Linked DNA regions of Homo sapiens. The protein of the gene in region 2 purifies or fractionates together with the protein of the main gene of each other region. This does not show direct contact. Each region holds a gene or a part of one and is shown on either strand. Other genes may lie near its edges.

The links.
Region 1: the proteins of APBB1IP (region 2) and LUZP1 fractionate together in Homo sapiens (co-fractionation; one large-scale study listed by BioGRID). This does not show direct contact.

What each region holds. Positions count from the first base shown.
Region 1 is NC_000001.11:23,162,083-23,165,903, forward strand, and holds part of LUZP1 (leucine zipper protein 1), read right to left. Parts: intron 1-3,821.
Region 2 is NC_000010.11:26,514,680-26,518,500, reverse strand, and holds part of APBB1IP (amyloid beta A4 precursor protein-binding family B member 1-interacting protein), read right to left. Parts: intron 1-3,821. UniProt on the Homo sapiens protein: Appears to function in the signal transduction from Ras activation to actin cytoskeletal remodeling. Suppresses insulin-induced promoter activities through AP1 and SRE. Mediates Rap1-induced adhesion.

The DNA.
Region 1 (3,821 bases), on a different chromosome or scaffold from region 2:
CCACTAAAAATTTTTGCACGGTCACATTAGTGTTAAATAAAAGGAGCCAGACCACAAACAATATATACTATATGATTCAATTTTTACAAAAGTACAAAAAAAGAGCAAAATAATCTATGCTGTCAGAAGTCAGGATGGTGATTACCCTGGGTGGTAGAGGGGAGACAGGAACTGAAAGGGAACTGGATAGGGGCTTCTAGGTACTGGTAACGCTGTTTCTTGATCTAGATCTAGGTGCTGCTTACATGGGTATATTCAGTTTGTGGGAAAAAAACATCAAATTCCACTTTTACATGCATTTTTCTGTATATGTATTATATACTTCAATCATAAAGTTTTTAATAACGTAATATACTTTTATTTTTTTTTTTTTTGAGACGGAGTCTCGCTCTGTTGCCCAGGCTGGAGTGCAGTGGCGTGATCTCGGCTCACTGCAAGCTCTGCCTCCTGGGTTCTCGCCATTCTCCTGCCTCAGCCTCCCGAGTAGCTGGGACTACAGGTGCCTGCCACCATGCCTGGCTAATTTTTTGTATTTTTAGTAGCCACGGGGTTTCACCATGTTAGCCCAGCCCATAATACATTTTTAAAATACTATTTTGTCCAGATAAAAACAGGAATAGAGTGCTCACTTCCACAACACAAATACTAAAATTGGAATGGTACAGGGAAGATTAGTATGTGCCCTGCACAAGGATGACATGCTAATTCATAAAGCAGTCCATATTTTTAAATTTTTTTGTAAAAATAAAGAAACAAACGGTATAAAGGGGCACATGCAAATACGGCAGGTCTTGAATGAAAGATTACCCGGGTAGAAGCTTTCAGAGGAGTAATTCAAACAGCCAGTGATACAAAGTACCATGTTAATAAAGAATAAGGCTGGGTGCGGTGGCTCACACCTGTAATCCCAGCACTTTTGGAGGCCGAGGCAGGCGGATCACGAGGTCAGCAGCTCGAGACCAGCCTGGCCAACATGGTAAAACCCTGTCTCTACTAAAAATACAAAAATTAGCTGGGTGTAGTGGCAGGCACCTGTACTCCCAGCTACTTGGGAGGCTGAGGGAGAAGAATCGTTTGAACCCGGGAGGTGGAAGTTGCAATGAGCCGAGATCACACCACTTCACTCCAGCCTGGGTGACAGGGTGAGACTCTCTCAAAAAAAAAAAAAAAAAAAAAGCATGTTGGGGCCAGGTGCCACTCATGCTTGTAATCCCAACACTCTGGGAGGCCAAGGTGGGAGAATCGCTTGAGCCCAGGAGTTCAAGACCAGCCTGGGCAACAAAGCAAAACCCTATCTCTACAAAAAAAAAAAAAATGTTTCTTAATTAGCTGGGCATGGTGGTGCACACTTGTAGTCCCAGCTAATCGGAGGCTGAGGAAGGAGAACTGCCTAAGCCCAGGAGTTCAAGGCTGCTGTGAGCTATGACTGCCACTATACTCCAGATCGAGAGAAAGAGTGAGATCCCGTCTCTTAAAAAAAAAAAAAAAAAAAATGCTGAGTCTGGGAAGGAAGTTGTGCAATACTAAAGGATTAACTATCAATTCCTTAGAACATAAGGAGGAATCTCCAGAAATTAAGAAAGTCATAGATGACAACAGCAATGCCTAAAAAGGTTAGCAATGCTTGTCATGTTGTGGCTCATATTTTAATATGGTATTTTCAAGCTCTTCCCTTGACCCTCCACTCCCATACAACTGAGAGTGTAATGACATAGACCCCAAACCTGAGCATCAATCATACCTGAGCTCGAATCAATGGTCTGCCCCTCACTTGCTCTGGCAGTTAACTGCTCTGAGCTCAGTTCCCTCATTTATAAAATAAGGATAATGACTACCTCATAGAGTTATTATTTTTTCAAAGGTGAACAGAGTAGTCACTTCTGCAGCACAAATACTAAAACTGGAATAATACAGAGAAGATTAGCATGTCCCCCGCTCAAGGAGGGAACACTATTATAGTCACCCCTTTGAGTAGATCTAAAGGGTTATTTTAATTATTATTTCCTAATGGTATACGGAGGACCAATGGTGGATTTAACAAGAATTCCTTTGCTTCGGGCAGAGCAAAAAAAAAAAGTTTCCATTCTCAGACAAATCCATGGGTGAGAGAAGGGCTTATAAAATAGTCACCGGCTGGGCGCGGTGGCTCACGCCTCTAATCCCAGCACTTTGGGAGGCCGAAGCGGGCGGATCACGAGGTCAGGAGATCGAGACCATCCTGGCTAACGCGGTGAAATGCCATCTCTACTAAAAATACAAAAAATTAGCCGGGCATGGTGGCGGGTGCCTGTAGTCCCAGCTACTCGGGAGGCTGAGGCAGAATGGCGTGAACCCGGGAGGCGGAGCTTGCAGTGAGCCAAGATCACACCACTGCACTTCAGCCTGGGTGACACAGTGAGACACCGTCTCAAAAAAAAAAAACACAGTCACCATACAGAAACAGAATGAATAAAGATAAAATCAAAAAATAAAGAGAAGGTAGAAATGGGGCTTCTTCTAGAAGCTCACTAGCACAGGTTCCAGGCATTTTCTAAGAGACAGAGACTTGAGCTAAAGCATACTGGGAGAAGTTCAGTGACTTGAGAAATTATGAAAAGGAAGAAACAATCTTCCCCGCAAGCCACAATTGCTACCTAATGTATTCTTCCCTTTGTGGAATATTACTTAAAACAAGTTAGAGATCAACACTAAGGATATTCTGTCATAGGTGGAAGGGCAAGGCCTTCAACCACTTTACACCATCCCCACCCTTAAGTATTATTTGAACAACCATAATTTGTTAAGCGCTTCTTAAGCACAGCCAAAGATGTTAAGTTTTATATTTCAGGAGCTACCATTTCAAAAGAAAAAAAATAAAAAGTTCAACTCCTTAAATCTTTTGGTAACTTTTTCCCCAAAATGTATCCTCTGTCTTAAAAGTAACTAAAATCTACTTCCTCCTGAATTTATTTATCTTTCCCCTAATCCAATAAATGTCTCTCCTTATTCTTCCTATTTACCTCACCATTAAATACCGAAGGTTTTCCTATTTCCTCCCAAGTTGGCACATTAACACTCTAATATTCATTCTGATCTCACAGTATTGAATCTGAGCATAGAAACCTCATAACATTCCCAGGGATAAATCTGCTACCCAATTCCTAAAAGATAACACACAGTTTAAAAAAATAAACACAGTGGTGGTAATTATACAACTGTATACATGTGTCAAAATTTGTCAAACTGTACACTTAAAATTGGTGAATTTTATTGTATGTAAATTATACCTCAATAAAGCTTTTTTTTTTTTTTTAAAGAATGCATTCCGGGCAGGGCATGATGGCTCATGCCTGTAATCTCAACACTTTGGGAGGCTGACATGGGAGGATCCCCTGAACCCAGGAGTTCCAGGAGACCAGCCTGGGAAACACAGGGAAACCTCATCTCTATAAATAAAAAAAAAAGTTAGCCAGGCATGGTGGCACACACCTGTGGTCCCAGCTTCTCAGAAGGCTGACGTGGGAAAATCACTTGAGCCCAGGCAGTAGAGGATGCAGTGAGACATCATCACAGCACTGCACTCCAAAAAAAAAGGGAATACATTCATTACATTCATTCATTCACTCATCAAATATTTGCTATGCATCTATTATATGCATCAAAGTTTATACCACATCTTTCAGCCTGGACTATCCGGGTCCTACCTGTAACAGCATGCTTTACTCATAAGTTGACACTGTCCCTAAAAGCTGTATTACATGAAAAATGATTCTGTTTCTGATAATGTTACCTTAATGATGGCCGCTTTACACTGGAAGGGCCATTAGCTATCCATCAACTTC
Region 2 (3,821 bases):
AGCTGCTTGGCAGTATCTACTATAACTAAACATATTACCAGCCTGGCCAACATGGTGAAACCCCGTCTCTACTAAAAATACCAAAACTAGCCAGGTGTGGTGGTGAGTGCCTGTAGTCCCAGCTACTCGGGAGGCTGAGGCACGAGAATCACTTGAGCCAGGGAGGTGGAGGTTGCAGTGAGCTGAGATTGTGTCACTGCATTCCAGCCTGGGTGACAGAAGGACTCTTTAAAAAAAAAAAAAAAATAGGCTGGGCGCGGTGGCTCATGCCTGTAATCCCAGAACTTTGGGAGGCTGAGGCAGGCAGATCACATGAGGTGGAGCTCAAGACCAGTCTGGCCAACATGGTGAAACCCTGCCTGTACTAAAAATACAAAAATTAGCCAGGCATGGTGGTGGTTGCCTGTGATCCCAGCTGTGCAGGAGGCTGAGACAGGAGAATCGTTTGAACCCAGGAGGCAGAAGTTGCAGTGAGCCTAGATTGCACCACTGTATTCCAGCCTGGGTGACAGAGCAAGACTCAATCCCAAAAATGAAATAAAATAAAAAATAAAACTAAGCATATGCACAACCTGTGGTCCAGCAATTGCACCTATAGGTATATATGCAAGAGAAATGTCTACACATGTCCAACAAAAGACATGTACTGTATAAGAATGCTCCCAACAGCATTACTTGTTAAAGCCCCACGCTAGAAACAAGTCAAATATCCATCAGCAAGACAATGGATAAATAGGTTTTGGTATAGTCACACAATGGAATTCTAACAGTGAAAAAGAATAAGCTAGTGCTATGGGCAATAGCATGAATGAGAGTTGAGCCAAAGCAAAGCTAAACAAAACCAACCCGGGCAACATGGTGAGAGCCTGTCTCTCAAAAAAACAAAAACAAAACTTGGCCGGGTGTGATGGCCTGTGCCTGTGTTTCCGGCTACTCTGGTGGCTGAGGCGGGAGGCTTACTTCAGCCTGCAAGGTGGAGGTTGCAGTGAGCCAAGATCGTGCCACTGCAAGATCTGGCTGGGCAACAGAGCGAGACCCTGTCTCAAAAAGAAAGAAGTACTGTGATATAATTCCATTTCATATATAAAGTTCAAAAAGAGGAAATGCTAAGGAGATAGAGGCTAGAATCATGACGACCTTTGTAATGGGTAGTAAGGACTGGGAAGGGCCAGGAGGAAGGCCGCTGCAACTCCCTGAATGCTCTGTTATCTTCATGTGGGTGGTAATTACATGGGTTGGTTCACTTTGTAAAAATTCAGAGTGTACCATTATGATATGTGCACTAGTTCATTAGTTACCATGGCAAACTGCAGATGCCCACTGAAGGACTGAAAGACATGCCATCCCCAAAAATGCTAGATTGGTGCACTGATTACTTCTAGTTGAAAACATTGGAGAAACTGCGGTTCCAGAAAGGGTGAGCTGACCTCCTCTTCCTGCAGGCAGCAAGCCATCAAGATTCCTCTGGGAGGGGAACCCTCAGCATTTCGGGGCGAGAAAATAGCCCTTATCACCAGAGACTGGGAACGGGGCTGCAAAGGAGCTGAATAAATATACTCAACAAAGGAACCCTTATCTTCCACTATAGGTAAAGTAACCCTTATCTCCCCCCATATATCTTCTGGTGATGCCCTCTAGTGAAAGGAAAATAAAAACGCGGGACCCCAGTTCACGCTGCCAAAAGGAATAAAGTAAGCTGAAAGCTGAGTCATGCAAGACGTTGCCTTCCCTTTTGTTCCTAAACAGACAGCTACAAATAAAAGGTTAAATATCTCCACAGGGAGCAACTCTATGTTCATCTTATCTTCTGTGAAGTTCCAACTTACTGAGTGCGAGAGGAATACAGCCATTCACTCTTCCCCTACCTGCTCCTTTTCTCTTGCAATGTGTGCGTTACCACACCCCTCCCTCTTTCCCCTCCTTGACTTTTCCGCTTTACTTTTTTTTTTTTTTTTTTGAGATGGAGTCTTGCTCTGTCACCCAGGTTGAAGTGCAGTGGTGCTATCTCGGCTTACTGCATCCTCTGCCTCCTGGGTCCAAGCAATTCTCCCTTCCTCAGCCTCCCAAGTAGCTGAGATTACAGGAGCCCACCACCATGCCTGGCTAAGTTTTAAATTTTTAGTAGAGATGGGGTTTCTCTATGTTGGTCAAACTCCTGACCTCAAGTGATCCGCCTGCCTCAGCCTCCCAAAGTGCTGGATTACAGGCGGGAGCCACCGTGCCTGGCATCCCCTTTAAATATTGAAGCCCTCAAATTCATCTTTGGAGAAGGGCACAGACCACAGACTGTTTCTGTGATTCTGTTTGTTTGTTTGTTTGTTTTCTTCTGGGCATGTCCTTAAGCCTTGGCAAAAGAAACTTCTAAGCTGATTGAGACCTGTCACAGAGACTTTCCGGTTTACACTCCCCTAGAAACTTTACTGCCCCTAGCCAGATTCCCTTTGTTCTGTCATTTTTTTTTCAAATTTATTATTTGTTTAAAAAGTATAGAAGCATCTTGCCTCGGCCACTTCTTTAGACTTGACTCTTGTGAAGATCCCCATGTAGATGTAAAACTGATAAAAATGTGCATACTTTCCTCTTGTTAATCTCCCTGGTGTCAACTTGGTTTCTAGATCCAGCCTAAAGGGATATGGAGGTAATCCCTAATCCAGCCTAAACAGGTATGGAGGTAATCTCTGATCCAGCCTAATGGGATATGGAGGTAATCTCTGATCCAGCCTAAAGGGGTATGGAGGTAATATCTGATCCAGCCTAAAGGGGTATGGAGGTAATCTCCGGCTCTCCCACCATGGCTAATCTTAGTTATACAATAGCTATTCCTTCTCTTAGTTATACAATAGCATAGCCATGTTGCATGACTCTTGGGCATTATTTTTATAGATTCAAGGGGAAAGGTGCCTCATGGAGGAGTTATGCAAAGTGGTGGCCCTGAATGTAACTCCCTAGTTTTAGCTGTGCATATGGTTGTTCAGATAGACACTACATTTGTCAGCTTTCCTTGTAGCTCAGTGTCATTATGTAACTAATTTCTGGCCAATGGGATGGAAGCATAAATCTGAATGTGCATTTCCCCGGCTCTTCCCTCACTTCATATGGACTGGAAAATGGTGAGGCGGAAAAGCTAACATGGAACCAAAGATGGAAACCACATATCGAAAATGGCAGAGCCATTCTACTAGGTCTAGCTACCTGTGGCTGGACCAGTGCGTGAGAGAGAAATAAGCTTGTAGCTTGTTTGAACCACTGATTTAAGAGTCTCTTTGCTACAGCAATTTAGATGGTACCCTCACTAACGCAGTTGTTAAAGCATGCCATTGGGCTGGGTGCAGTGGCTCACACCTGGAATCCCAGCACTTTGGGAGGCCAAGGCGGGCGGATCACGAGGTCAGGAGATCAAGATCACCCTGGCCAACACGGTGAAACCCCATCTCTACTAAAATACAAAAAAAAAAAAAAAAATTAGCCGGGGGTGGTGTCATGCGCCTGTAGTCCCAGCTACTTGGGAGGCTGAGGCAGGGGAATCACCTGAACCCGGGAGGCAGAGGTTTCAGTGAGCCGAGATTGCACCACTGCACTCCAGCCTGGCAACAGAAGAAGACTTTGTCTAACAAAAAAAAAAGAAAAGAAAAAGAAAAAAGCATGGCATTGAAGGTAGTTAGGGGCGAAAAACTTTGTACTTTTAATACTATTTAATTGTTGTGTTGTCAGTCAGCCACCATACAACCTAGGGAAAACCCAGAAAATAGCATTTATAGGAGAAATTTTCCCGCAAGGAAGCTGCCCTAATTCTCCCTCTAGTGATATGACACTTTTTTTTT